Linked DNA regions of Homo sapiens: region 1 is linked to region 2. The links come from fine-mapping of genetic effects on gene expression. Tissue or cell type: aorta. Region 2 holds a variant in brackets; the other region holds the start of a gene. All regions are shown on one strand. Distances are from middle to middle.

Region 1 (15,439 bases), 57 kb before region 2:
TCATAATGGTTTTGAGTTTCCCTAGTGACTAATGACTTTGAGCGTTTTTTCATGCACTTATTTGCCATTCTTAGCTTCTTTGGTGAAGTGTTTTTTAAATCTTCTGCCCATTTTTTATATTGGGTTGTTTGTTTTCTCATCATTGAGTGTTTTTTGTTTTTTTGTTTTTTTGAAATGGAGTCTTGCTCTGTCACCCAGGCTGGAGTGCAGTGGCATGATCTTGGCTCACTCCAAACTCTACCTCCCAGGTTCAAGCGATTCTCTTGCTTCGGACTCCCTAGTAGCTGGGACTACAGGCACATGCCACCACACCCTGCTAATTTTTGTATTTTTAGTAGAGATAGGGTTTCACCACGTTGGCCAGGCTGGTCTCGAACTCCTGACCTCAGGTGATCCAACCGCCTCAGCCTCCCAAAGTGCTGGGATTACAGGCATGAGCCAGTGCACCCAGCTATATCATTCAGTTTTGAGAATTCTTTATGTATTCTGAATATGTATCCTTTATCAGATATATGATTTGCAAATATTTTCATCCAGTCTATGGCTTGATATTTCATTCTTTTATTAGATATTTTGATGATGTCTAAGTTTTGTCTAACTCAAGTTAGCAGAGGTTTCCTCCTAGATGTTTTATAGTTTTAGGTTTTATATTTCGAGTTAATTTTTGTGTACAGTGATAGGTATGGGCTGAAATATTTTTCCCTCAATTGTTCTAGCACCATTTGTTCAAAAGGTCGTTCTTTTTCCAATCAATTTCCAATGAATTATCTCTGCAGCTTTTTAATAATCAGTTATCTATATATTTATGGGTTTATTTCTGGACTTCATTTTGTTCCTTTGACATAGGTATTTGTGTTTGCACCAAATCACACTTTATTGCTTACTATAGCTTTATAGTAGGTCTTGAAATCAGGTAATGTTAGCCTTCTGATTTTGGTCTTTATTTTCTAAGTTGTTTTTGGCTATTCTCAGTTCTCTACATTCCATATGGAATTTTGACTATGCTTATCAATTTTTATCAAAAAGTCCACTGGGATTTTTATTGAGTTTGCATTTAATTTGTAAATCAGTTTGGCTAGAATGAACATCTTAACAATATTGAGTCTCCCAACCTATGAAAAAAATATATATCTCCATTTTCAAAATATTCTTCAATTTCTCTCAGTAATGTTTTGTAGTTCTCAATGTATAAGTCTTTTACATATTTAATGAGATTTATTTCTAAGTATTTCATATATTTTGATGCCATTGTGAATGGTATTATTTTTAAAAATGTCAATTTCCAATTGTTGTTAGTAAAGAGAATACAATTGATTTTTGTATATTGATCTTGTATTCCACTTATTAAACTTGATTATGAATTCTAGTAGCTTTTTTGTAGATTCATTTGCATTTTCTAGACAGATGATCATGTCATGGGTAAATAGAATTTTACATCTTTTTTTCCAATCTGGATGCTTTTTATTTTATTTTATGGAATTATTGCACTAGAACCTCCAGTACTATGTTGAGTAGACGTGATGAAACTGAACATCCTTGTCTTGTTTCTGATCTTAAGGGAAAGCACTCAGTCTTTCACATTAAGTGAAAGGTTAGCAGTAGACTGCATAGATGCTTTTTATCAGGTTGAGAAAGTTCCCTTCTATTGCTAACTTACTGAGTTTTATCAAGAATTCTCTTTTTGTAAGCATATAACATATATTTCTAAGACTTGTGGGACAGATAAAAGTGTATATCCACAAATTCACATGCAACTATATTGATTTCTATATCTATTATTAAAATCTATGAATTCATGTTTCACCACCACAGGATCCATTGTAGTTTTCTTTCTTTCCATATATGTAACTCTCTTTTTTGATAGTGAGAAACTGGTTTCCATCCTCCTTAATAGATTTGCTTATTTGATCAACCTCTTGTGTGTAACTATTCTCCCATCACTACTCCCATCCCATAGCTCATGCCATGCCTTCCACATCACACTTGGAGTCTGGCATTCACCGCACTGCTGCTGCCTTCCCCAACATGGACATCCTCATTACCCTGCTTGGCCTCTGACTCCCTGGCTTGGGCTGCCCTTCTGCATGGACACTCATCTCACCCTAACCATGCTCTGATTCTCTGAACTGGGTCATGCCCTTTCACATGGAAGTCCCCTGTTCTTGCTCATGCACTGACATCCTTGTGGATGTTACCCCTATTGGCTTCTGAAACCCATGTTGGGCTGCATGCCTAGGAGGCCACTATTGCCTAGACACTGAGTCTCTGCAAATGCTGCCCTCCCACATGGTCAACCCCATAACAGGGTACCCTGTCATGGGGTTTTGGAGCCTGAGACCACATGACAGGCTCTTCTTTTCCAGGGACTCTCCTTAACCCTTCTTGGGCTCTCATATCCTATAGTGGGCCACTCCTCTGCATTGATGCCCTCACCCCTTGTGGTTCACACCTGCAGTAGGAAGCCCCAGACAGAAGCTCCTCCTATCTTGCATGTCTCTTCCATCTCTTATCCTGCCCCAGCTTGGAGACCTAACTTGTTTGGCCCCAGCTAAAGACTTTTAGAGTGGAGTTTTTCAGGAAGAGATAGAGAAGAAGAAAGAAGAAGAACTCACTCATTTATTTTTCATGAATAACTTAAAATATTTTTTACATAACTAAAATATTTTCCACTATTTTGTATTAGGATTTTAAAAAAATTATTTTGGGAAGAAAGGACATATTTGACCATACTTGGTCTATCTTTAAGAGAGGGTAGCTCCATTATTGCTTCAGAAGTGTCTTTTATAAGGCAATTGTAGTCATAATTAAGTTCAACTAGTGGTATAACCAAGGTAAAAGCTCAGCATGTTCCGGGAGACAGGTACACACTATAATCCAGGAGGAAATAGCCCAGACACTAAAGAAATTGCAAGACTGCCTATATATATCAGCAGACTCCAGGCAGAACCAAAGTGGGCAGAATATAATACTAGTTTTGGCAAAATTTATTGTTTTGATGCGTTTGAGAGTATAAATTTAATATACTTCTAGAGGTGACTCTAATAGCTTACTTGATTGGTTGACTACAATTTGAAGGAATTCCATGCTGGCTGAGATGCCAGAGCTTCCCTGAAACAATGTAAAGGAGGGAATCCAAAGGCTTAGGGAATTAGGAAGGTTGAACTGAATACTCGATGTGTGACCTGCACAGCCACCTGCCAACTACATTCCACAAGATGACCCAGAGGTATTTCCTTCACGACAGCAATGAGAAATATATTAATGAAGGAAGTACTGCATCCTTGAACATCTCTGTGGTTTCTCCTCTTTCTAGAAAAGTTATGACTCTAGTACAGGATGATGCCATCGAAAAGGGGTCAAACGGCAGCACTTAACTGCCAAAGGGAAGGTAAGTACCTCTACCGTAAAGGTCGGGAGGGGCATACTAGTAATCAGAATGTTTCGATTGGCAGAGATCTTTGACAGTGGATAGTTGATCATGATGTCTCTTGAAAGTAAATATGTGGGCAACCTGTGGGTGTAGTGCCTGATCTATGTAACAGCAAAAACTCTGGTAGCTGAAAACCTGACTTGAATTCCCACAGAGAGGAACTGAAGCCCCTTACCTAGCTTTTAGACATAAGTAAATTTATAGACACAGAGCCTTTTGACTGAAAGGTAAGCCAGGTGCCCTTGAGGAAGGACCCTGCACCATTGCCACATGCACACACCATAAATCCTCCTCTAAGACTTCTCCAAAGGGACCAAAGTTGACAACTGACAAACCCCCACATTTTCTCTCTGACCCATGGGTGATGGCTTTTATTGTTGGAAGGACTAAGCAGAAGCTCCTAGAACTTTCATTTCTACCAAGAGAATAAATCAGAAGCAATATTGCATCCCTGAGGGGATTGCAAAAATCCATGCTGCCATCAAAGACTTGAAAGAAGTGGCGATAGTTATCACATCTCCACTGAACTCATCAGTTGGGCTGTGCAAAAGTTGCATGGGTCTTGAAGAATGACTGAAGACTACTATGAACTTAATGAGGTGGTGGCTAAAATTCCAGCTGCTGTCCTAGATGTAGTATCTTTCCTGGAGCAAATTGATATGTCTCCCAGCATTTGCTTCGTAGCTACTGACCTGCCCTTTTCTCCTCACTGATTTGCAAGGATTGCCAGCAACGGTTTGCATTTACCTGTCAGGGCTAACAGTATACTTTCAGTTTTGCCTCAGGCTATGTCAATTCTCCTGCTCTCTATCACATTTATTCTGCAGAGATGTTGATTGTCTTGACGTTCCACAAAACATCACATTGGATTACCTCATGGATGACAGTATGATGAATGGATCTGATGTTCATGAAACACCATATACTTTAGAGGCCTTGGTAAGATATAAGGTGGGAGATAGGCCCCACAAAAATTCAGGGACCTGCCACCTCAGTATGGTTTCTGGGGGCTCAATTGTCACTCCTCCAAGGCAAAAGGAAAGTTGCTGGTCCTTGGATGATCTAAATGGGAAAAGAGGGAGAATGTATGTTCAGCCTTTTTGTATTTAGGAGGGAACATATGCCACATTTAAAAATGCTTTTTGAATTCATCTATAGAGTTATCTCTAAGGCTGCCAGTTTCAAGTGGTGTTGAGCAAGTTCTGAGAAGTCTCTGCAGCAAGTTCAGGCTGTGTACAAGTCACTGTATCACTTGAGCCTTATTATCTAGAAGGTCCAGTGATAAAGTATTTATGGCAAACAGGAATGTTGTATGGAGTCTTTAGAAAGCACCAGAAGGAAAATCACAGCACAAAACTCTGGGGTTTTAGTGCACATCTATGCCTTATTCTGGATATGGCTGTTTGCCTTTTGAAAAATAGCATCTCCCTTGCTACTAGGCTGTGGTAGAGATTGAATGCCTAACCATGGTATGCTGGGTGACTATGTAATCTGAACTTCTCATCATGAATTGGGTGTTGTATGACCCTCCTAGACATAAGGCCATGTGTGCGCAGCAGCAATCTACCATTAAATGGAAATGGTATCCAAGAGACTGGGATTGGGCAGGTCCAGATGGTGCAAGCAAGTTGCATGGGCAAGTGGCTTAGATTCCTTTGACTCTGAAGGTACGTTGCCTCTTCCACTCATATGGTTTATGGCCTCTTGAAGATACTCCAGTTGAATGAGGAAGAAATAACAAGACTGGTTTGAAGATTTTTCTGTATTACACACAGATATTACTCAGTTTCACTCATGGGTGATCCTGAAGGACACTGGTGAAGAAAAATTCTCCCAGTCGATAGAACTTTGAGCAGCAGATTTTGTTGTATGCTATGTCTAGACTAAGAGAGGGCTGGGAGTACACATGGACACTGATTCGTGGGCAGTTGCTAGTGGTTTGGTTGATGGTTAGGGACTTGAAAGAAATAGGATCAGAAGATTGATGACAAGGACATCTTGGGAAGAGGTGAATGAATGGACATCTTATAACGGTTACCAAGTGTGAAGATATTTGTGACCCATGTGAATGATGACCAAAGTGCATTCAGTGGAGGGGAAGTTCTTAGTGATTAGGTGGGCAATTGATGTACTCAGTGGGTGTCTGTCAGTCTCTTTTCTTGGCCACTCTACTGCTTACTCAATGAGCCCATAAACAGAGTGGCCATGGTGGCAGAAACAGAGGGTATTCATTGCCTCAACAATGTGGACTTCCTCTTACCACGGCTGGCCTAGCTAACACTACTACTACTGCTGAGAGCCTAATATGTCAACAATAGAGGCCAACATGGATCCCCTAATGTGGCCCCATTCACCTGGGGAACTAGTCAGCCACCTGGTGGCAGGTTGATTCCATCGGACCTTTTCCATCTTGGGGTGGGGGGTGGGGGTCAGAGATTTGTCCTCACTGAAATAGACACATTCTGGACACGGATATGCCTTCCCTGCCATAATGCTTCTGCCAGTAGCACCATCTATGGACTCATGGGGCACCTTATCCACCATCATGGAATTTCCCATAGTGATGTTTCTGATCAATGATTCCCACAGCATTGCTTCTTTCACAGCAATGAAGTGCAGCAGTGGTCTCAAGGCCATAGAATTAACTGGTTTTACCACATGTCCCATCACCTGGAAGCAACTGGACAAATTTTGAAGGATGTAACAGTTTAGTGAAGACTTAATTATAGTGTCAGTTGGGAGTCACCACACTGAAATGATGGAGTCCATCTTAAAGTGTACTTACTGTGTGTGCTTTGAAACAGAACATACATATACGGTACTATCCACCCCACAGCCAGGACATATAGGTCTCGGAATCAAGAGATGGAAGTGGCTCATGTCACTATTAAACCCAATAATTCACTCACAGAAGTTTTGTTTCCCCTCCTGGCTACCTTGAGCTCTGCTTGTTTGGAAGTCTTAGTCCCCAAAGAGGAACTGCTCACTACGGTACACTGCAATGGCTCAATCAGGAAGAGAAACCCAATCAGTGAGGCACTCTGCCAGATCTTACAGGGGAGAAAAGCATGACTGATGTGTCTGCTGAATCCATGAGGACGATTTCTTGCAGGTGCTCACTTCTGCAAAATACACTGTGGGAAGTATTGGAAGAGTTTTGATTCTGTCAAGTTTATACAACAAGAGAAAAAACAGCCATGTTTGCTGATTTTTATTTATTTGCTCACCTATGTGGAAAGAAAAGAGAGGGCCTTACAGTCTTTTGGGGTAGACAAATCTTTTCCAGGCCTTCAAGACACTTGAAGATGCAGTTAGTAAGAAAAACTTTCTTACTATCTTATCTGATGAGTTACAGTATAGGACTAAAATAGAGCAGGGATTCTGGGTCATACAAAATTAATGTTAGGTCAGTTGCACACTCCTTGAGCCATCATTGGTGACTCTGCTAAGGTTTTCTCTTAATTTGCTCTGTGTATATCCTGGTTAAAGGGCCGACCTGTGTCTTTAGAGCATTTCCTATATTTGGCCCTATTCTAGTGTTGTAGTTAAGTACATGGATCTGGAGTCTGATTGCTGGGAGCTGAATCCTAGCTTGGTCAACTTGTAGCTTTGTGATCTTTGGTGTCAATTAACTTCTCTGTGCCTGTTATCTGTAAAATGAGGATAATAGTTATATCTACTTCAGAATATTGTTTGGAGAATTTATTAAGATGACATATGTACAGTCCTTACAACAGTGATTGGCCCATGGTCAACAATGACTAAGGTTTAGCAATTCTTATTATAACTTGGCAGTGTGTGCTGTGAGTCTGCCTGCCAGGAATATAAACCATTTGGGATCCCTGCTCTCTTTCTCTAGCAAACCTGCAGAACACCTGCTAAATAGCTCATATAGACTGAATTATGTCTCCCCTCCCACCTCCAAATTCATATGTTGAAGTGCTAACTCCCTAATGTGACTGTATTTGGAAATAGGGTCTTCAGGCAGGTAATTAAATGAGGACATAAGGGTGGGGTGATAACCCCATAGGACTAGTGACCTTGTTAGAAGAGGAAGAGACCAGGGCTCACTCTTTCTCCATCACACACAGAGAGAAGGCCACGTGAGGACACAGTGAGAAGGTGGCCGTCTGTAAGCCAGGAAGAGAGGCCTCACCAGTAACCAACCCTAGCACTTTAATCTTGGACTTCCTGCCTCCAAAACTCTGAGAAAGTAAGGTCTGTTATTTAAGCCACCAGACTAGAGTATTTTATTATGGCAGCCCTGGGAGACTAATAGCATTATGAAATTGCATAATTTAAATATTCAGGGTGGATGTGGGGGCTCACGCCTGAAAGTTCAGCACTTTGGGAGGCTGAGGTGGGAGGATCGATTGAGCCCAGGAGTTTGAGACCAGCCTGAGCAACATAGCCTGTCTCTACTAAAAACAAAAAATTATCCGGGGTGGCAGTGTGCTTGTATTCCCAGCTACTTGGGAGACTGACCTGGGAGGATCACCTGAGCCCAGGGGAGGTCGAGGCTGCAGTGAGCCCTGATGGAGCCACTGTACTCCAGCCTGGGTGACAGATATAGACCTTGTCTCAAGAAAAAAACAAAAAACAAAACAAAAAACCTGTTGCCTTTAGAGATAAAGATGGAACTGTGGAGTCAGTATCCTCAAATTCACTCACTGATGTGAAAAGCTGTTTGGGATTTACTTCTGAATGTATTTCTCAGGTGTACAGTGTTTAGAAAATGGAATCAGGGATTATGGAAACCAAGAAAATCAGGGCCAAATGATTGCTTTTTGGAATCTTTTATCAAAGCTTTTCTAAGATCTTCATTAAATAACTAGCAAATCTGAGAGAGCACGAGATCTCAGCCCACACTGAATTTCCTAATCTCTGGGAATATAAAGTCAGATTTGGTTTCTATGTATTTTTACTCTGAAATGTAGAGAAAATGTAAAAACTTAGGCAGTAATCGTGCAAATTAAGAGTCATTCTTTAATGAATGCCTTGCGTTTGCAAACAGGCTTTACGCCTGGCAAGCTCGGACCACGTCCATCGTGGGGCGCCAGGAGATTGCTGGGCCACTGTCCCCAATTCAGGGCTGGGTCCCGGCGTCCCCGCGTTCTCCGAGTCCCTGGTCCCCGCCCCAGCCGGCGCCGGGACCCGCCCGACTCCCCGCCCCTCCCCCGCCCACGCCCCAGCCGCAGGGGGCAGGGCGGGAGGCGGGCGCCCGGCGCGTCCAGTCCCCGGGACCCTTTTAAAGCGTGGCGCGCCAGGGCCGGGCATGCCGAGCCCCGTGGCGGAGACAGCGGTGCGCTCAGCTCCCGGGAGCGGCCCGAGCAGCCGAGCGCCCAGGGCTGCCCTTCCCGGGCCGGCGGGCTCCCCGGGCTCCCCGCCGCCGCCCCGTGCGCCCCGGGAGGGCCCGGCATGCTGCGCCAGCTGCTGCTCGCCGCGCTCTGCCTGGCGGGTCCCCCAGCGCCCGCGCGCGCCTGCCAGCTGCCCTCCGAGTGGAGGCCCCTGAGCGAGGGCTGCCGCGCCGAGCTGGCCGAGACCATCGTGTACGCCAGGGTGCTGGCGCTGCACCCCGAGGCGCCCGGCCTCTACAACCACCTGCCCTGGCAGTACCACGCCGGCCAGGGGGGCCTCTTCTACTCGGCCGAGGTCGAGATGCTGTGCGACCAGGCGTGGGGCAGCATGCTGGAGGTGCCCGCCGGCTCCAGGCTCAACCTCACCGGCCTGGGCTACTTCTCGTGCCACTCCCACACCGTGGTCCAGGACTACTCCTATTTCTTCTTCCTCAGGTGAGCCCGGCGGCGCCGCCGCCACCTCTCTCTCTCTCTGCGCCACCTCCCGAGGTCGCCGTTACCTAGAGCCAGGCCGGTAACTCCCCGGGCAGCCTGTCGGTGTCAAGTGAGAATGCCCCTGGGGCGCCTACCCCTTGCCTTCTTGGATCTTTCTTGCTCCGTCTGACGTCTCTACAGACATCCTGACTACCCCTGGTTAAGGCGGTTTAAAAGACAGGGAAGGTTTCTGTGCCTTGTACACAGAAGAGCATTGCAGACAGAAGCTCAAAGCGCCCTCCAACAGTCCCTTTGACTTGGGTTTTTAAACTGGCCTCAGTGGGAGTAGATTGGGACGGTGAGAAAAACAATCTTTGAAATCAGTCTGTGGCTGGCATTTTGGCTCTGCCCTTCCTAACCGTGATTCTGAGCGCATTTCTTGACACCTTCTCAAGAACTTCCATAGCCTCACCTGTGTAAAGTGAGAGACAGGGCTGGTTGAGTGAGGAACGTAACTCATGCAAAGCACCTGGTGCAGGTTAGAAGTTGACCAGCTGTCCACTCTCTCCTCTTCCTCATTTGCTCAAATGCCAAGATGTGAATGGTGTGGAATGTAGCCCGGGATTGCTTCACTGTCTCATATCAGCTGCCAGGTTCTTTGAAATAGCAAAGGTTTACTAGGGCTTGGGGTTCTGCTGCTGGTAAAATCCTGGGTAGCAATGCTTTGAGGAGTGGAGAGGTGAACCAGGCCAGGAGGTCCTCTTTGATTATAGACCACTGGAATCTTCTGAAGTTCCATGAACTTCAGAACTTGGCCTGTGGTCAAGATGGAATGCATCTGCCTAAGAATTCAGTCAATTCTCATTGACTACTGAATTCTTCTGAAATTTGAATAGAGAGTGCCAGGTAGAACTCTAAATTCTTTGGTTAGCTTCAGTTGGAATTTGGAGAGTGATATAAAACAACTGAGAAAAACATCAAAATGGAATCTAACCTATCTATCAAGATAGTAAATTAATCCACTGTTGGGGTGATCGGTTGTAGTTCGTTTTCCCAGTCTGGGAAGTAGCACTGAGGATATTTGGAATGAGGCTGACGTGGGTCTGCAGATTCACTTTTAGCTCGCATTTCTCTGAGAAAGAAAACAGTTCTACAAAGTGGTGTTTGTAAGTGCATGGCAACACATGTTTTCCATATTGAAGCCAGAATATCTAAGTTTAAAAAACACGTCTTGCTTTGTGTTGGCTTGAGTGGTTCAGCTAGATTAAGTTTTTATATATATGTATGTATTTCCAGAGAAGTGTAGTTTCTAAATAAAGCCAGTGAGACTGAGAGAGTGCCCTTCTCGATACAGAGAAACTTAGGGTTTCATGTTTTTAATTAGGAAAGATACTGAGAAACCATCTATAAAACTATTCAAAACCAGAACTTTGTTCTCCAAAGGAAAAAGAGCCCAAGTGTTTGAGCAGGCTTTTTAAAGAAATTTTTATCATGAAATACAGTTTGTCCAATAGTTCCGTGGTGCTCAGCCAATTCTCATCTTTTTTGCTCTACCATGTTTACAAAAGTTAGGGCAGAAATACAAAGACAGTAGTCTGACATTTTCATTTCACAGGGCTGTCTTGCCTTGGAGTGTGTTAACAACTACACACAAATCATTCCTTCTCTGTTATTCTGGGACCCACTGAGATGAAACTGGACCTGTGGTCACTGTCAGGGGTGAGGGTGGCAACGGAGACTTGCTGGTGAGCCCTACGTGTTTTCTGTAGACTGGAGTGTAACTTTCATCTCTTTCTTTTTGTGACATTTTAAAGAATCATTCTAATTGATTAATGCTAGGCCTTTAAATGTGTTCACTAACATGCATACTGCATTTACTTTGTACCAAGTGCTTCATTTACTTAGGTTTTTGATGCAATGCTTATGACATCACCAGAAAAGTAGGTACTATTTTTTACTTATATATGTTCTTTTTTTGAGATGGCGTCTCACTCTTGTCACCCAGGCTGGAGTGCAATGGTGCAATCTCTGCTCACTGCATCCTCCGCCTCCTAGGTTCAAGTGATTCTCCTGCCTCAGCCTTCTGAGTAACTGGGATTACAGGTGTGTGCCACCGTGCCCAGCTAATTTTTGTATTTTTAGTAGAGACAGGGTTTCACTGTGTTGGCCAGGCTGGTCTCGAACTCCTGACCTTAGGTGATCCACCTGCCTTGGCCTCCCAAAGTGCTGGGGTTACAGGTGTGAGCCACCGCACCTAGCCAGTACTATATTCTTTTTGCAGATTAGAATACTGAAGCTTAGAGGAGTTAAGACATTTGTTTCATGTCATACAGAAGATAAATAGCAAAGACAGAACTTAAACATAGGTGATGACAGCTGGCCTTTTTTTCACCAGGAAATAAGGAACACTCTTTGAGAAGGAAGACCCCTTGGGGGACTTGGAAGACAACACAAATAGACAAACAGGCACCATACACATAGTTTTCTCCATACTTTGCTCAAACTCATCTTTTTGAAAACCTTAAGGATAGACTGATGTAGCGTGAGACAAAGAAATAATTAGAAGTAGTAACTCCTCTAATGAGAGCCATGCCAGACATTGATGTGAAATTGGCAAGCCCGTTGCAGTTGTCTGTGACTCTGGATTGGAGCTGGTACACCCTTGACTGTCTAGCCTACATGTCTGCCTTTTTTTCCTCCATTAGGATGGATGAAAATTATAACCTCTTGCCTCACGGAGTCAATTTCCAAGATGCCATCTTCCCAGACACTCAAGAGAACAGAAGGATGTTTTCTAGCCTTTTCCAGTTTTCAAACTGTTCGCAAGGGCAGCAGCTGGCGACTTTCTCCAGTGACTGGGAAATCCAGGAAGACAGTAGGGTAAGAATTGGCTAAATCCTGTGCCACAGCAAAACAATAGTATAGCTACACCTTGTGTGAATTTTGTGACCAAAGGAATCAAGAATACTCTTCCAAAAGCCCAGATCAGAGAGTATTAGCGTATGCCCTCTCTCTCTCCTGCTATCCCTCCTTACCTCCCAGCTGTTAAAAAAGACCATTCATAAACTTTGGATCCCTGAAGCTTTACTGTTGGATAAGGAGTTCTTCCCAAAGTATGAGAACAAGATGAGATGAAGATTGGCATGCTGAGCCTCAGTTTCCTCTTCTACAGAACAGGGACAATAGTAGCATCTATATCAGGCTTGTCCAACCTGCAGCCCAGGACAGTTTGAATGTGGCCCAACACAAATTTGTAAACTTTCTTAGAACATTACGAGATTTTTCTGCAATTTTTTTTTGCTTATCAGCTATCGTTAGTGTTAGTGTATTTTATGTGTGGCCCAAGACAATTCTTCTTCCAATGGGGCCCAAAAGATTGGACACCCCTGATCTATGTCAGAGGGCTAATGCAATATGATTTAAATATGTAAAAACTATAATTATGTAAATCCGTTAGCGTAATGCTTAAAAGAGTAAGTGCTCAATACATGTGAGCCGTTACGACTGTTCCTGACTGTGTATGATTGTCATGGACAGCACAGGGCCCTAAGAAATTGTCTTAGAGGAAAGGAAAAGTGCTGAGGGAAATGAAATGAAATTGCTATCATAGCTACCACTTCTGTGATTCTTAACTATAGTTGGTAAGACATAGAGGTGCAGGATGGCCAAGGTGGTTGCAAAATGTAAGGGTCGGGATCGTAAGGGTTGGGAATGAAAATATAAAAGAGTCTTCCGATCTGGGCCAAATGCCAGAGTTGGAGGAACATTTTGATGATCATCACTCTTCCAAAGCAATGGGCTTTGCCACAACCAAGTTGGGATGATAGTGGGGGCCAGGCCAGTCTAGGCCTCTGGGGCTGTGACCCATCTCTTCCGGTCCCCGATTGAAGACATTTTTAGGGCAATGTGACACACTGCTGGAGAGAGAGTTCTGATGTGGGTATCACATGGAATAAGGACTTTTTTTTTTTTTTTCCATTAACGAACCCATTTGCACATGTTAAGAGACTCCCTTCTTTCCACCCATCAAGAAGGGTTTGAGGGAAGTGTCTTTCTCTTGTCTGGTGGGATGGCCTAGGGTAGCTGCCTTGTTCTTCCGAATCCCCTTATTGTCTTTTTTATTTTGTTTTCCTTCCAACTTTTATTTTAGGTTCAGGGGGTACGTGTGTAGGTTTATGACGTGGGTAAATTGCGTGCCACTGGGGTTTGGTATACCAATCGTTTCGCACCCAGGTAGTGAGCACAGTACCTGAGAGGTAGTTTTTCCATCCTCACCCTCCTCCCACCCTCACGTAGGCCCCCGTGTCTATTGTTGCCATCTTTGTGTCCATGTGTACTCAATGTTTAGCTCCCATTATAAGTGAGAACATGCAGTGTTTGGGTTTCTGTTCCTGCGTTCATTTGCTTAGGATAATGGCCTCCAGCTGCATCCATGTCTGCAAAGGACAGGATTCAAACCCGCTTCAAAGGGAGATTCAAAGGGAGCTTCTCCCAGGGCTCCCTGGACCCTGGAGGCCTTCTTCATGCTCTTGCACAGAAGCTATTCCTGTGAAGGGCTGGTACGTCCAACTAAGGGAAAGGATTTCTTCTTCTTTGACATATGTCTGTAATCCCAGCACTTTGGGAGGCCGAGGTGGGGGGATCACCTGAGGTCAGGAGTTCAAGACCAGCCTGGCCAACATGGCGAAACCCTGTCTCTACTAAAAATACAAAAATTAGCTGGGCAGAGTGGTGCGTGCTTCTAATTCCAGCTACTCGGGAGGCTGAGGCAGGAAAATCGCTTGAACTCAGGAGGCGGAGGTTGCAGTGAGCCGAGATCACACCATTGCACTCCAGCCTGGGCGACAGAGTAAGACTCCATCTCAAAGAAACAAACAAACATACATTCCTCAGCTCTGCCCTACTGACAGCAGTCTAGACTTTTCTAACCCCTCCCTGATGGTTAGAAAGTTAGAACTTTCTGAACGCTTCTCATGTAGTTTGCTCCCAATGTGGTTCTAAGCACCTGTTTTTATTCTTCCTTTTCTCCTTCTTAATCATTACTGTTGCCTACTCCATATTGAGTTGGACCCAGCAAGTCTAAGCCTGAGCATCCCAAGCCCGAGTCATACTTAATTTCTTCCAAGCGAAGGCTTTTTAGGCTTGGCCCTTTTGTTCCCCATCTTGTGGGAGCTTTGTTTATATGACTATATAATAGATTTATGTCAAGAGATCAGATATTATTCTGATCTTTAATAGGTTAGCCCTTAAAATCTTAAGCTACATAACTTCTTAGCACTATGGTCACAATCTAGCTACTAACATTTTTCTGGAATTAGATTTTTCCATCATTTGGGAAAAACAAAGAACAATGGGACCGTGGAGAATTGTTTCAGCCTGAAGGCAGATCTATTTCTGTTGATCAGATGTTGATCTTGGGGGAGAATTCCTTTTCCCTTTCCCTTGAATCACCCTGGCCTCTTAGATAACAAAGTGTGGGAGCATTCCAGGCTCAGAGAAAAAGTGGAAACTTGAGGTGAGGAAGATCATTATTTCACTTTGCTGAGCTGCTGTGGAGCAGAATTTAGTTCAATCTGAGGGACTCTGCACGTTTCCAGACCTCTGCTTGTGCCGTTTTTACTCCCTACCCACTTTGAAAGGGACCACATCAAAGCTACATAAAATTAGCCCATTGTGGGCTGATTGCAGTGGCTCACGCCTGTATTCCCAGCACATTGGGAGGCCGAGGTCGGCGGATCACTTGAGGTCAGGAGTTTAAGACCGGCCTGGCCAACATGGTGAAACTCCATCTCTACTAAAAATACAAAAATTAGCTGAGGATGGTGGTACGCGCCTGTAATCCCAGCTACTTAGGATGTTGAGGCAGGAGAATCATTTGATCTTGGGAGGCAGAGGTTGCAATGAGCAGAGATCGTGCCACTGCACTCCAGTCTGGGCAGCAGACCAAGACTCTGTCTCAAAACAAAGCAAAACAAGAAAAATTAGCCCATTAGTTTAAAACTTAATTTGAAATTAAAATTACATTGACTTTTTAAAGTTTTCTGATGCTCCCTAAGATATTTTTACATACCCTGGAGTGATTAAAATAGTTGTGAATTATTGACTACTACTTGCTTCTTTTTTTTTTTTTTCTTTTGAGATGGAGTCTCACTCTGTAGACCAGGCTAGAGTGCAATGGCATGATCTCGGCTCACTGCAATCCCCACTTCCGAGGGTTCAAGTGATTCTCCTGCCTCAG
Region 2 (14,515 bases):
GATGTGCACATGGTACAGTGGTAACCTGGATGAGAACTTCATTTACTCAGCAGAGGTTGAGGTTAAGGGCATGTGGTGAGGGAAGGCTTTGAGGTCACACCTGGCCTGGGGCTTGAAGGAGGATGGTGATAAATTGCTGGGCTCCCAAAATGACTGGAATCTCAGGCAGAGAACACTGAATTTGCAGTGTCACCAAGTCATAAAATAGCCACATGCACCTGGAGAATTCGGATTCGTTCATCAATGCCAAAGGATGAAGTTCAAAATGGGGCAAGGAGGAGGAAGTTGCCACTGGAAAGTAAGAGGGGAACTCGGCTGTGAAGACACATCATGGGCTAGTCTGGGAGTTATTCTAGATGATGGAATGCCATCAAAACATTTCAAGCTGGAGAGAAATACATTCTGGGTTCTGTTTTGTTCTCTCAGTCTACCTGAGTATATTCATTTGCACCTCAATGAAACATGATTTCTTTGTTGGGTTCAATACATGGTCCATGACCGTAAAAGATTATTTTTGAGTTTGGGGATTGTCCTAATTCATTCTATCATCAAGTCATAATGATTTGCTGAGCTAATATTTATTGAGGGCCTACTTTGTGCCAGGAACTATCCTAAGAACTGAGGATGGAGCAGTGAACCAACAAAACCTTCTCCCTCCTGAGGTCACATTCTATCTGGTGCCTGCTAGATAATATGTTCATGGTCTGGGGAGAACCACATGAGCCTGTTTCTTGGTCTCACCTGATTTGGGCACGATCAGTTTGGCTATGTTCTCTAGGCGGCTAGAAGTGGCTAGAAGTCATTTCTATTCTGTACCTTTATTTCCTTATCTGTCCAAAGGGTATACTCGTGGCCTATGGTGAAGATACCAGAAGGTTGTACTAGACATGGTACAGACAGGGACTGAGTTTCTTGGAAGGTGAATGCACAAGAGACATAAAAAGAGGAGTTCTTACAAAAACACCAGCGATCCCTCTCCACTGTGTATGAAATCAGTGGCTTCCATGTGCTCTGGGCTGTAGCCCACACAAAGAACAACTTTTTTTTTTTTTTTTTTTTTTTGAGATGAAGTCTCACTCTGTTGTCCAGGCTGGAGTATTGTGGCTCAGTCTCAGCTTACTGCAACCTCCGCCTCCCAGGTTCAAGTGATTCTCCTGCCTCAGCCTCCTGAGTAACTGGGACTACAGGCGCATGCCATCACACCCAGCTAATTTTTTGTATTTTAGTTAGAGACGGGGTTTCACTGTGTTAGCCAGGATGGTCTCCATCTCCTGACCTTGTGATCCACCCGTCTCAGCCTCCCAAAGTGCTGGGATTACAGGCGTGAGCCACAGAGTGTCACAAAACTGCATAAATGATGCCTGATACTTCCTGTCCACCCTGCTTTATTTACAGATGCTGGTAGAGACCCCCGGATGGATTTCACAGCCCACTGCTAATGGATCATGCCCTGTAGATTAGGAGCCATCGCATTAGGTCAAACATTCCTTAAATGGGTTTTAAACTTTTTTTTGAGACAGTCTCACTTTGTCACCCAGGCTGGAGTGCAGTGGTGCAATCACAGCTCTCTCTAGCTTGGCCTACTGCTTCAGCCTCCCGAGTACCTGGGACTACAGGTGCACACCACCATGTCCAGCTAATTAAAAAAAATTATTTTTGTAGAGATGAGAGTCTCACTATGTTTCCCAGGTTGGTCTTGAAGTCCTGGACTCGAGTATTCCTTCCAAAGTGCTTGAATTACAGGCATGAGCCACTGTGCTTGGCCTAAACTTTTTATTTCTCACAGTGCTCACTGAATACTTTCTGATTGATTGCCTCAGCTCCTGCTTGGCCTTTTCTAACCCAAGCTACTGTGCAGAGTGAGCCAGAGAAAGCTCAACCTTCGTGTTATCGAGGAAGGCCAGACAGACGCACCCTACTGCAGACTCAGCCCCTCTCAAGGTGACCTAGGCTGACCTGTCATGATTACTCCAGTTGGGCATTAAATGGAGTCAGGTGTGGTGGGGGAGCAGCCACCCCCAAGCCCCCCATATCTTCCTCACAGAGTCTGTCAGTGCTGAATATGTGATTGTGTCATGACGCCTTTCTCTAGAGAAGCCCACAGGTCTGAGCTTGTGTGGTATGTGGGTGCTTCTAAGGGTTTCTGACATGGGCGAGGAGTCAGGAACTGTAGAAATGTTTGCATTTGCCTTCTGTGTTCTAACAGTATACAGGAGAGGAAGTCAAAGTCCAGGATAAGGAGAAAAAAATGATAACCAAGTGCAAGGTTTTTAGGGTCACCAACCCCAAAGTATGAAAGCATTTCATGTTGTTTCAGTAGAGAACAATTTGCCTCGTTCTGCTCTTTGCATCTGAACTGATCTCAGTCTTAATGGCTAGAATCTGATGGGGTGGTGGATGAATTCTTTAGATTGTTGCTTTTTAATCCCAGCAGATGCCTGTATTTTTAATTGAAACAAACCCCTGGGAAGAGCATCCTCCTGACCATTTAGGTTGAATCTCTTTCTCTTAAAACTGCTTTCCGGAGGGTGCTTTGGAGAGCATTTCCTGTTAGCTTGAACTCTTACACCTGAGGCCTTATTTGTCATGTGTAGTTATTCATGCATTCAATAATTATTAAGCTCCAGCAGGCAGAGGAAGGCCTTGGGTTAGTCAGGGCACTGGTAACAGCTTCTATAGGAGATGGGACAAGAAAAGGACCCATGTGGTCTGGATTGGGCAAGGAAAGCTTTTACAAGGAGAGAGAACAGTAGATGCAGGAAAGGGAATGGGAGGCTGGGGGCATGGCCAGAGTGAAGGCATGGAGAAGAGACAGCAGAGATGAGCACAGGAGGTGATGATGGGCTTGGATGTGACAGGTGGCACCAACTAGGAGAGAACACAGGTGTGTGAACCCAAAGTAGGCACACAGATATGGATACCACATGGCTGCTTTGAAGTGTGTATCTCTGGGTCTACACGGTCACCAAATATACATTAGATGAGATGACCTCAGCCTGATTTCACCACCTAATTTCTTGACAGTCTCTGCACCCATTACCATTTGCTTCCTTAGAAGTCATGATTGCACTTTCCTCTGGGCAGAAAACCCAGATATACTGGTATTAAGACTGGAATAGTCTTTTGCTTCAGGATCTGATAGGATCTCCTGAAAAGAGCCAGGCCAGGCTATTACTTACATTGATTTAGGAAAGTGAACCTGCGATTATAATTTTTTTCTCAGCAAGCAAGGCAGTTATGTATCTTGTTGGGGAAAGTAGTGTGTATTCTTTAGGATTCAGCTCAGCTTCAGTATTGGAAAACCCTAGTAATACTGGCTCAGGTAGATGTTTATTTCTCTTGTGTGAAGTCCAGGCTGGAATGGAACTCCACAGTGTCAGATCCCTCCATCGGGTGGCTCCACTGAGCATGGCCTCCGTGGCTAAGTTCAACTCCTGGTCCAAGATGGCAGCTCCAGCCATATCACGTCTGCATTCCAGCCAACAGGAAGGAAAAAAGAGTAAGAGAAGGACATGCTTTTTCCCTTTATGAAGCACTTCACTGAAGCTGTGCACACCACTTCTGCTTATATCCCATAGCCAAAACTTACTCATGTGGCCACACCCGGTTCAAGGCAGGCTGGGATATGTGGTCTTTATTCCCGGCAGCCATGTGCCCAGTTACAGAGTTCTCTTAGCAGCTTTTACTAAGGAGGAAACAAGGGGAACACTGGCAGTTGTGTCTGGCTCTTCTGCTATTTAGCTAACCAGCAGTGTTTGCTCCCAGGAGCCCCCAAAATTGTGATGTTGCAGTTCACTCATGGCCCAGCTACTGAGGACATTATGTAGGTATCCCCATAATGTCATGAGATATAAAAGAATTGCCTCCCAGCACTTTGGGAGGCCGAGGCGGGTGGATCACGAGGTCAGGAGATCAAGACCATCCTGGCTAACACGGTAAAACCCTGTCTGTACTAAAAATACAAAAAATTAGCCGGGCATGGTGGTGGGCGCCTGTAGTCCCAGCTACTCGGGAGGCTGAGGCAGGAGAATGGCGTGAACCCGGGAGGTGGAGCTTGCAGTGAGCCGAGATAGGCCACTGCAGTCCAGCCTGGGCAAAAGAGCAAGACTCTGTCTCAAAAAAAAAAAAAAAAAAAAAACTGCCTTAAAAATGAGGACTTAAATTTTTACCCCTTTTCGTCTTCAGTTGGTCACCAAATTTAGCGCTTCTAGTAATTTAAGGTGTTGGACCAGTGGTCTAAAGAAGGGCAAACTCTATTTGACAATGACTCTCACATTAGAGTTGAAGAAAGAGATACACTTTTTCAACTCTAGGAAAAGTCCCAAAGGTAGAGAAAACACACGGGGTTCTGGAGCTGAAGGTGGCCCCTCCCGTGTGTGTGTGTGTGTGTGTGTGTGTGCAATTGTCTGCCTGCCTTTAGCCACATCAAACTCTTCACCATGATATCACACATGCCTGAGAGAGAGGCCCTGGTCTCCTCCATATCCTGAGTCAGTTTAGTATATGGGCTGTATTAGTCTGTTCTCATGCTGCTAATAAAGACATACCTAAAACTGGGTAATTTATGAAGGAAAGAGGTTTAATGGACTCACAGTTCCATGTGGCTGGGGAGGCCTCACAATTATGGTGGAAGGCGAAGGAAGAGCAAAGGCACATCTTATGTGGTGGCAGGCAAGAGAGTGTGTGCAGGGGAACTGCCCTTTATAAAACCATCAGATCTCGTGGGACTTATATAATGAGAACAGCATGGAAAAAACCTGACCCCATGATTCAGTTACCTGCCACAACCCATGGGGATTATTACAATTCAAGGTGAGATTTGGGTGGGGACACAGAGTCAAACTGTATCACCGACCAAGAGCTGGGCTCTGGAGTCAGGCTGCATGTGTTCAAAGCTTGGGTCTTCCAATTTCACTTAATAGGTGAGACATCTTGGGTCTGTCTTCTGAGCCTCTGTTTCTCCCATCTATGAGCTGAGGGACAATGCTAATAAGAGCAGGCACACCACAGGATTGTCAGGAGGCCGTGCTTAGCACAATACCTGACCCGTTGGTAAGGACTTAAAGGAAGTCAATCCACTGCTCTCCTCTAACTCATCTCTTCATACAAGAGGCACTTAATTATCAATTTATTAGTTACTGCTAAGCCCAACTCTTAGCAATGTATTCTACTCAGTCAGGTACTGAGTATCTCCTGTTTGTCCAGCTCCTGTTGCCTGGCTCAAAATAATTAGAAGATCTAGATTCCCGTCCACAGGGAGTGTATAATCTACTTGAAAATATAAAACACCATATAGGGTGGCCTGTAGCTGAGGTGACAAAGTCACAGGCCATTTTATCAGTGCCTCATGTATTTTTAGCACCCAACACTCTGGCACATGGTGGAAGCTCATGAAATATTTGTTGTATAGAAGTGAACAGGCCAGGTGTGGTGACCCACGCCTGTAATCTCAGCACTTTGGGAGGCCAAGGCAGGCAGATCACTGGAGGTCAGGAGTTCCAGACCAGCCTGGCCAACATGGTGAAACCATGTCTCCACTGAAAATACAAAAATTAGCCAGGTGTGGTGGTGGGCGCCTGTAATCTCAGCTACTTGGGAGGCTGAGGCAGGAGAATCACTTGAACCTGGGAGGCAGAAGTTCCTGTGAGCCAAGATCATGCCACTGCACTCCAGCCTGGGCTACCAAGCAAGACCCTGTCTCCAAAAAACAAAAAAAAAAAAAAGTGAGCAAAAGATGAGAATGGGAATGTTACATTACTTTGAAACTACATCAGGCACTCCAAAAAACTAAGGAGACAGAGCTGTGGGTGGCAGAATTTTTGACCGAAAATAAACTGTGGAGATAGAAACAAAAAAGGAAAACCAGCAATAAGAGAGCTGGCCTCTGTCTTTTGCTTTTCCGTTCGGTTTTCTATTTCTTCTTGGCTTCCATCCTCCCTTATGCTAGTGGCGGAGGGGGCTGAATGTAGTGACAGGATCTTTAGGAAAGTATAATTTTGAGGTAGTACAGGATGAGATGATTACCAAATAAGGTAATAATTCCCAAATAGGAGGGAAAATGCATGTTGATTAAAGGAGGGAAAAGGCAGAAGACAGAATGAAGAAAGAACACCTTTTCCTGCTACAATAGCAAATGGAGTTTTTGAGTCTTAGGGCATGGTGAAATACAATACCTGTGAAAAACTGTAGATAAATTAAATTTAACAGAATGTGAGCAAAGAACAGTTCATGAATCGGGCACCACTCAGAACCAGAATAGGTTCAGAGAGCTCTGCTTAGTAGTGTGAACCATGAGCTGCTCTAGGCCGAACAGGAAGCAAAGTAGAGAAATGACCTGATTAGCCACAGTTGGGCATTTGTCTTATTGGGCATGATCGGATCAGTTGGCTGCCTAGGATTTGCTGAGACCTGGCTATTTGTTACCAAAAAAAAATACTCCTAAGTTAGTTAGTTTTCAGTTTGTTTACATACTAATAAATTAAGGTGCAGTTTGTTATGTAGAAACTCACAGTACAGAGACAGCCTCTGCTAGTTGAACAATTTCCCCTTTTTGGTCAGCCTCTCAAGATTGACACTGATGCTCAGACATTGACGCAGCCTTAGACACTGATGCTATTGCCTGTCAGTCACTATCATAGTGGACATGTTTGGTTTCAGTATGGAATTCACAAGCCATGACATCAAGTCTGTTGAATGACTTGTTATGTTCCCTTTGTGGTTTTGCTGCTATAAATGGAGTGAGGCCATTTGGGGCAGAATGGGTGGCCGCATTTAAGACTCTTGAGAGAATACAGTGCCCTAGAGATACTACTATGATGACGTATCAGGAGGATAGTACTAACAGACTGAAATATGCTCCTTAACCAATGCACCCATGAACCAAACCAATTACAACCAACTAAACCAAAGAATTAGGCAGAAGAATCTACTTGTTTTAACCAAGTTGCCTGTTTGTTATCTAAGTGCAGCAGAAGGTGTTAGCTATCACACACACACTGCACCCCATTCAGCCAACAGATAGTCAAAGGCAACCTTGTTATCTTAAATAACTTGAACATAGTTATAGAAAAACCTTAGTTCTTTTTACTAGAAATGATTCCATTTTCTTAATCGAAGAGCAAAGACAACATGAAGCACGGGAAATTATCTTGATAAAACAGTCTTTATTTCCTAGACCAATTACTTAAAAGGTAAAGAAAAACCTTTTACCCTATCTTATTAAGAGCAGACTAGAACTCCAAGAAAACCTTGCTGTTTTAACACAGAGGACCACATTCTAGTTTTGTATCAGCGTACTTTTGATATTAATGTTAGAATTTAAAAGCAACTTAATTCCCTTCAAATATTAGCAAATATTAGGAATTTGATCACACATATAATTCCTTTCCCATGATTCTACTTTTACAAGCATCCTACAGTTTTCTTATATCCATTCGGGGTTTTTTTTTTCCCTATACTTTTTTTCTCACTGTGGAACAATGCCATTCTATTTTAGGACAAAAATTATTCTCTTTTTGCCTTTAACAAAACACATTCTCCTACCTTATAGATTTTCTGAAAATTCATCTTACTTATTTTGTATGCTTGCATATAGAGTTGTTTCCCGTATTATTTCTGGTAATTTTAGTTATATACTAAATCATCTTAATTTCCAGTGAAAGGAAGCAAGCAGTTGTGAACCCTATTACACTAGCTGTCTGTAGATTGACAAATTTATGAATCATAATTTCTAGAAGCATGTGCTTCCTCATAGAATAATTTTTTTCATTGTGACACAGAACATGTTTACTAACAGATTCAGCTATCTTTAGTCTCTAATAAAAAGCTATAGGGGAGGGAAAGTTGTATCTCTATCCTTATTAGAATTTTTGGCTAGGCCTGAGAATGAAATTGTTGTTTGTACACATTTTCCTCAGCCTGAACTTCCATCCTTGGTAAGAATATTAAAACCTTCTAGTATAGGGAAGACCCCTTTCCCATGGGAATATTTTTCCTACATCTAATTCATTGTTCTTAACAATTATACTTGGATTGCTCATGACAATGAGACATTAAGTATCCGTCACCTTAAGTTATTTTTCTTGCTAACAAATTTTGTACTACAGAGGTAACATGAGCTTATTTTACTAGTAAACATAGGTAGGAAAAGTTATGAGTCTGTATTATATTTCTAAACTGGAAAGTGTCTGAGACAGGTTTCAATCAATTTATAGGTTTATTTTGCCTAAGTTAAGAACCATGGCCCATTATATGGCCCCAGGAAGTCTTGAGAACATGTGCCCAAAGTGGGTGGTTTACAGCTTGGTTTATACATTTTAAGGAGACAGACATTGCAGGCAAAGACATAAATCAATAGATGAAATGAATACATTGATTCGGCCCAGGAAAGCAGGACATCTCAAAGCAGGGGCTTCCAGGTCAGAGGCAGATTCAAACATTTCCTGATTGGCAGTTGGTTGAAAGAGTTAAGCTCTGCCTGAAGAATTGAATTCAGCATTAAAAAACGCTTGTGTTTAGAGAAGGGGGTTGTGGAAGCCAAGGTTCTTGTCACGTAGATGAAGCCTCCAGGTAGCAGGCGTCAGAGAGAATGGATGGTGAATGTCTTCTTGGACCCTAAAATGTATCAGACTCTAGTAAGGGAAGGAGATTCTCAATGGAACACAAGTTTCCCCCATGAGAGAGAGCTTTGTAGGGCCATTTTGGAATATGTCAAAGAAATATATTTTGGGGTAAAATAATTTCCTTCAGGGCCTGTTATCTGTCATGTGGTACTCTACTGGAGTCACTTTGGTATCTTACTGCTACAAAGACTCTGCTTTGTCAGTCTTAAGATCCCTGTTTTAATGTTAACACTGGTCGGTTGTATGTCAACTCTTAAGGGAGGAGGGTGAAATGAGGCCAGTGGAACCTGTCCCTTCCCATTGTAGCAGCAACGTTGTCTGGGGTAAATACCCAAGATTCGTCATCTCATGCCAAGGAAATCAAGGATGTGGACACATAACAAGTGAGCTTAAGAGAAGAGGTTTAATAGAGAGAAAGAGAAAAACTCTCTTCCTGCAGAGAGAGAGGGTCTTCCAAGTGGGTCGTCTCATCTGTGGCGAAATGCACAGAGTTTTATAGACAAGCTTGGGGAGGCGGTGTCTGATTTACATAGGGCCCAGAAGACTGGTCAGACCAGGTGTGCCATTTACATAGTACACAAAGAGGCTGGCCATCCCACCCTAATCTGTTGTTATGCAGATGGGGTTTCTACCTGGGCAGCGCCATGTTGCCTGCCTTTCTACTGCACATGTGGCGACAAAGAAAAGGGAGGAGGGAACCTCCATGTTGAATATACCTGGCTTCCAAGTATCCCTTTTCTATTGGCATAGCTGCTGGCATTTGCCTATGCAAGCTTGTGTTTGCAGCTTGATTTTTCAGGCTGCTTTTTGTTAAAAGGGAAACCTTACCGAGGATTCTCATACCCTCACTAACTGCCTAAATAATTTCTTTTTAGCTACCTCATCACCATCATGGCCTAAACTAGTTTTTCACATTTCTTCGGGGTTCCCTTGGCCAAGATGGGGGTTCCATGTAGTCGTTTGCGGGGGGGTGCTTAGAATTGTATTTTTTGGTTTACTATCTAATGCTGACCACTCTATTTTCATTAAACTGACAAACTTTAACCAAAGATTATCCTAGAACACATAAACTTGGAAGGTATTTTGGATTCATTTTTTTCCTAAGAGTTTAAGGAGTACTTAATTTATATAAGCGCTTAAGCCAATTAAATAAAGCTCTTTTATAACTTAATTTTGGTAATACCATCTGAAGATAGAAAAAAATCACACATACGTACCTACAGAGAGAAATAAACATAAAGACAGAGCCCTCTGTTGTAGGTTTCATTTTAAAATTTAGGCATGTACTGAAATGGCGTCATTCATCTGCGGTAATACCCCACGTTCTTTGCCTCACACCAAGGAGATCAAGGACGAGGACACACAAGGAGTGAGTTTAAGAGCCAAGGTTGAATAGGCGAGAGAAAGAGAAAAGCTCTCTCTCCTTTGGAGAGAGGGGGGCTCCCAAGTGGGTCATCTGATTCTGTGGTGAAATGCATGGGGTTTTATAGAAGAGCTTGAGGAGGCAGTGTCTGATTTACACAGGGGACAAAAGATTGGTAGGACCAGGTGTGCCACTTGCATAGCAGGTGAAGAAGCTGGCCACCCCACCCTAATCTTTTATTATGCAGATGGGGTCTCTACCTGGCCGGTGCCATGTTGCCTGCTTCATTACTGTACATGTGGTTGACAAAGAAAAGGGAAGATAGGGCGTCCATGTTGAACATGACTCACCCCCAGGTAGCCTCTTCCTATTGGCACAGCTGCCAGCATTCACCCGTGCAAGCTTCCAGCTTGCTTTTCTATGTCTGTAGCTTCATTTTGCAGACTGTTCTTTCTTAGAAAAGAAATGACTTTGGAGCTGCTTTTTATTAAAAGGGAAACTTTGCCGACGACTTTTACCCTCACCAACTGCCTAAATTTCTTTTTAGCTCCTGTATCAGTACCAGATACAAAACCCACAAAATTTACTACTTTACAGAATAGCTGAATTCCAATTATGTTTCTGGCAGATGGAAGAAGTTAAGATTACTTGCTCTGGTAGCAAAGCTTTTTAGTAATATTTGTGGAAAAGACAAGAATTTTCATTTGCCCAAATGTCATTTTTCTTCTGATGAGTCATCTCCCTTAAAATTTCCATGTCAAAGGGCTAGCTGTAAGGTTCTAGAGAAAACAAGAGAGAAAATGGACATCTCAAAGGCATAGAGCATAGACTTCTGGCTTAATTACTATCATTTACCTAAAGAAAGAAAGAAGGGTATAGGTAAAGGCCCATTTAAGAAGATGGTCAGGAAAACCGCCTTCAACAAAGGTAAGACTTTTGAAGTAGATGATTCAAGGCCGTCTCCATTCTTTAGTTACTTAGTCCTCCTCCTATTCCTGGTGCAGAGAGGAAGGCACTCTTACAAATGGAGATCTCCTTCCTTAATAGATGGAATTTTCTATTACAAAGGGGTCTCAAAATAACCAGCTAGAAATAATCCTTATGCCAAAGCGGCATATTTTGGAGACTAACTTGGCTAGATCAGTGGTTTCCCAACCCAGTTTGTTTTTATACTAAGTTATGTAGGAACTCAACCTCAGACTCATGGGCTCCTGTAATTTAGTATGTCTTAGCTTCCCTTCAGCATCTGGTGCAG[T/C]CATCTTAATCTTTTCTTGGTCACAGACTCCTCTGAGAGTCTGGTGATGAATCCTCTCCCAGATAAGTACATTAATATACATGCAACATTTGTATTCAGTGCCAAGATGTGCACATAGCCCTCTGAAGCCCACCTGTTACCAGAAAGGGGTCCTGATCCAGACCCCAAGAGAGGGTTCTTGGATCTTCTGCAAGAAAGAATTCAAGGCGAGGCCATGGAGTAAAATGAAAGAAAGTACAAGAATAAAAGAATGGCTTCTCCATAGACAGAGCAGCCCTGGGAGCTGCTGGTTGCCCATTTTTATGGTTACTTCTTTGTAATATGCTAAACAAGGGGTGGATTACTTATGCCTCCCCTTTTTAGACAATATACAGTAACTTCCTGATGTGGCCTTGGCATTTCTAAACTGTCATGGCACTGGTGGGAGTGTAGCAGTGAGGACCACCAGAGGACACTCTCGTCACCACGTTGGTTTTAGCCGCTTGTTTACTGCAACCTGTTTTATCAGCAAAGTCTTTATGACCTTTATCTTGGGCTGACCTCGTATCTCATCCTGTGACTTAGAATGCCTGAATTGTCTGGGAATGCAGCCCAGTAGGTCTCAGCCTTATATTACCCAGCCTCTACACAAAATGGAGTCGCTCTGGTTCATACATGTCTGACCACACCCACAGAGTATCACAAGTGCAAAGATCAGCAATTCCTACTCAGGGATCTAAATTCAGTGCCTCCCTTTCCTGTCCCTGGACAGTGCTGGGTAAGCCTTGTCAAGTCCACAGATCCCCTTCCCAGCATCTTGTCAGGTTCTTCCCTGTTGATCAGTTTTCTTCTGCAGAACTTGGAACATGGAGGGTTAGGCTATAGGCTCTTTCTCACTTAATTCTGCCTCATTTAAATTTATGTGCAGAAGGCAAGGGAGAAGGGTAAATTGCCTACCTCTTACGTATGATTGACTTATTACTTAGCTTCTTGCTCGGTACCACCAGTATAGGAAGTAAATACGATTATTCTGTAAGGTAAGGCTCTACAAGGTTATGATTGGACAGTCATGGAACTAATTAGTGGTTAAGATTCAAACTTGGGTATCTGACCCCGGATCCTATCTTATTTCTACTATACTTCAGGCCTCCCTGATTTTCTTCCTTTGACTAGGGAACCACCCTAACCCTTAAGGTGACTTCTGTAGACATCTAAGCTCATCCATTCCTAATATAACTCTCAAGAGGCCATAGACTTTGAGGTTCTTGCTGATCTTTTCATTGTATTCTCTTGTGCACCAATAATATACTTGAAATGTCAGCCACCATGCCAACATCTCACTTCCCAACTATAAAATCACATTCCCAGGAAAAACAGTAAACTGGAGTTTGGTTCAGGGAAAAAAAAAAAAAAAAAAAACAATTTCAATGATTCTTTCTCCAGATGCCTTCTTTTTCTTTTTGGGTTGTTGCTTCTGTAACTGAAATAGTCTGATATATTTTAAGCTGTTTTCTTTTCTATGTAAAAACATCCACCAATGGGGTTCTGCACTTTCTCAGAAAAAAAACAGTATGTTTTTAGACATTTAGGTCAGATATATTAACACAGAAGTGGAATTAGAATGGGTTAAGGCCCTAGAATGGGCATTTAATCCATCTTGACCAGGTCAATGCTATTTTTAAAGGCCTCCGACCTTTGAACTATTCCCATAGCTAACAATCTTGAAATTCAGAAAATTCTTAGAATTAGCCAAGTGAATTAGCAAAATGGTTGAAATTTTTATTAAATCATTGGCTGTAAGAAGAGGGTTTTGTTGTCGTTGTTGTTGTTACTCTGACTCTTAAAGAGATTGGCCAGGCCTTGATTTCATTACCCTTTTGGGTAATTACTACTATTTGATCAGAATATGTCATATCAAGCAATTTTTCTGCATAATCCCCATGTGAGGTTGGCCTTCCCAGGGTATCTCATCTGGACAGAATTGATCCGCTTTCCCAGGGTATCTCATCTGGACAGAATTGATCCGCTCCTACCATCTGTTGAATACTACCAACATTTATTTTCTTGAGACAGCATCTGGCTCTGTCACTCAGGCCAGAGTGCAGTGCCACGATCATCCCCCCTCAGCCTCCCAAGTAGCTGGGACTACAGGTGCATGCCACTATGCCTAGCTAATTTTTGTATTTTCAGTAGAGATGGGTTTGTACCATGTTGCCCAGGATGGTCTCAAACTCTTGAGATCTGCCTGCCTTGGCTTCCCAAAGTGCCGGGACTACAGGCGTGAGCCACTGCACCCAGCCTCTACTAACAGTTATTATAAAATATAAAGAAAGATTTCTTCTCGTGCAGCTTAAAAGCTTCAGGTCTGATGGACTGGACAGAAGTTGGAACACGGGAGTAGGAATTTACCTTACTCAGAAGGACACCTTGTCCACTGGCCTGGAAACACTAGATTTATAAAGTAGGAAGCAAGGTCATTGATAAGGGCGAATGCGGAAGTGATAGGAAAGCGTTAAAGGCTAAAAGTCACTGTTGTAAAGACTGGGAAAGAGAGCTGACTTGAGGCACGTAAAGGCTGGGCAGAATTGAGGCTGGAGATTCTGAATTTGTAGTGGATGCAGCCAACCTCTCAGAGATAGGAGGAGAGAAGATAGTGGAGCTAGAGTTAGATCTGGGGTTGGCATATTTATTGTGTGTGTTTATTTAAAAGACAAGAAGGCAAGGGGATTGGGGCTATGGACCAGAACGCAGGTGAGGTTATGGATCCTTGATTCATTCACCCATGATACAAATGTCTATTAAGCAGGCATTATATAGGAGACAGTGTGGCTGGATAGGGAAGGAGGCACAAGACAGGAGTAAATAGTTACAATAGTTACTTTTGGAGGGAAAAAGAGGGTGGGAGGAGTTCAAGGAACCAAAGAAGTGAAGGCACGAGCAATCAGAAAGGATAGTAATGGAAGCCAGTGCATAAATAGCTCTGTGTGCCAAGCAGTGTTCTGTATTTTGCACATTAACTCAACTCTCTGGGATAGGACTACTGTTATTCACATCTTATAAGCATGGAATGATTGAGTAACTTGTCTATGGTCTCCTAGCTAGTACATGGCAAAGCTGGGATTCGTACCCAGGCATCAAAGCCAAAGTTTTTCACGCTATACTGCACTGCCTCTAGAAGGTTGTGGTCCAAAGGGGAAATAGTTCCAGCTGATGACGTAGCAGTGGGGATAGCCACAGGAGAAAGTAGCTGAAGCCAAGTGTGGCAGCCAGTGCTGGATGCATTATCCATGTGGTTAC

Which allele goes with the higher level. Positions count from the first base shown, and alleles are read on the strand shown. Sizes are in standard deviations (SD) of each study's normalised expression.
For the expression in aorta of the gene that starts at base 8,706 in region 1, allele C in region 2 goes with a lower level than allele T (small effect, 0.31 SD a copy in GTEx).

Evidence for each region. PIP is the estimated chance that this variant, and not a neighbour inherited with it, causes the effect. A credible set is the group of variants that fine-mapping cannot tell apart.
Region 1: CCDC3 starts here. The variant in region 2 is the best candidate, but not a certain one, in a credible set for the expression of CCDC3 in aorta (GTEx, PIP 0.54).

Annotation. Positions count from the first base shown.
Region 1 is chr10:12,994,980-13,010,418 of GRCh38, reverse strand. It overlaps CCDC3 (coiled-coil domain containing 3), which reads left to right and starts at 8,706. Exons shown (of 3, transcript NM_031455.4): 1 at 8,706-9,222; 2 at 11,907-12,081. The coding sequence starts at 8,849. RefSeq lists enhancers at 8,576-9,076, 9,077-9,577.
Region 2 is chr10:12,938,352-12,952,866 of GRCh38, reverse strand. The region is part of intron 2 of CCDC3 (coiled-coil domain containing 3); the gene reads left to right. Among named protein-coding and RNA genes, the nearest start is that of CCDC3, 56 kb to the left of the region's middle. The variant T/C (reference allele first, on the strand shown) is at 11,240.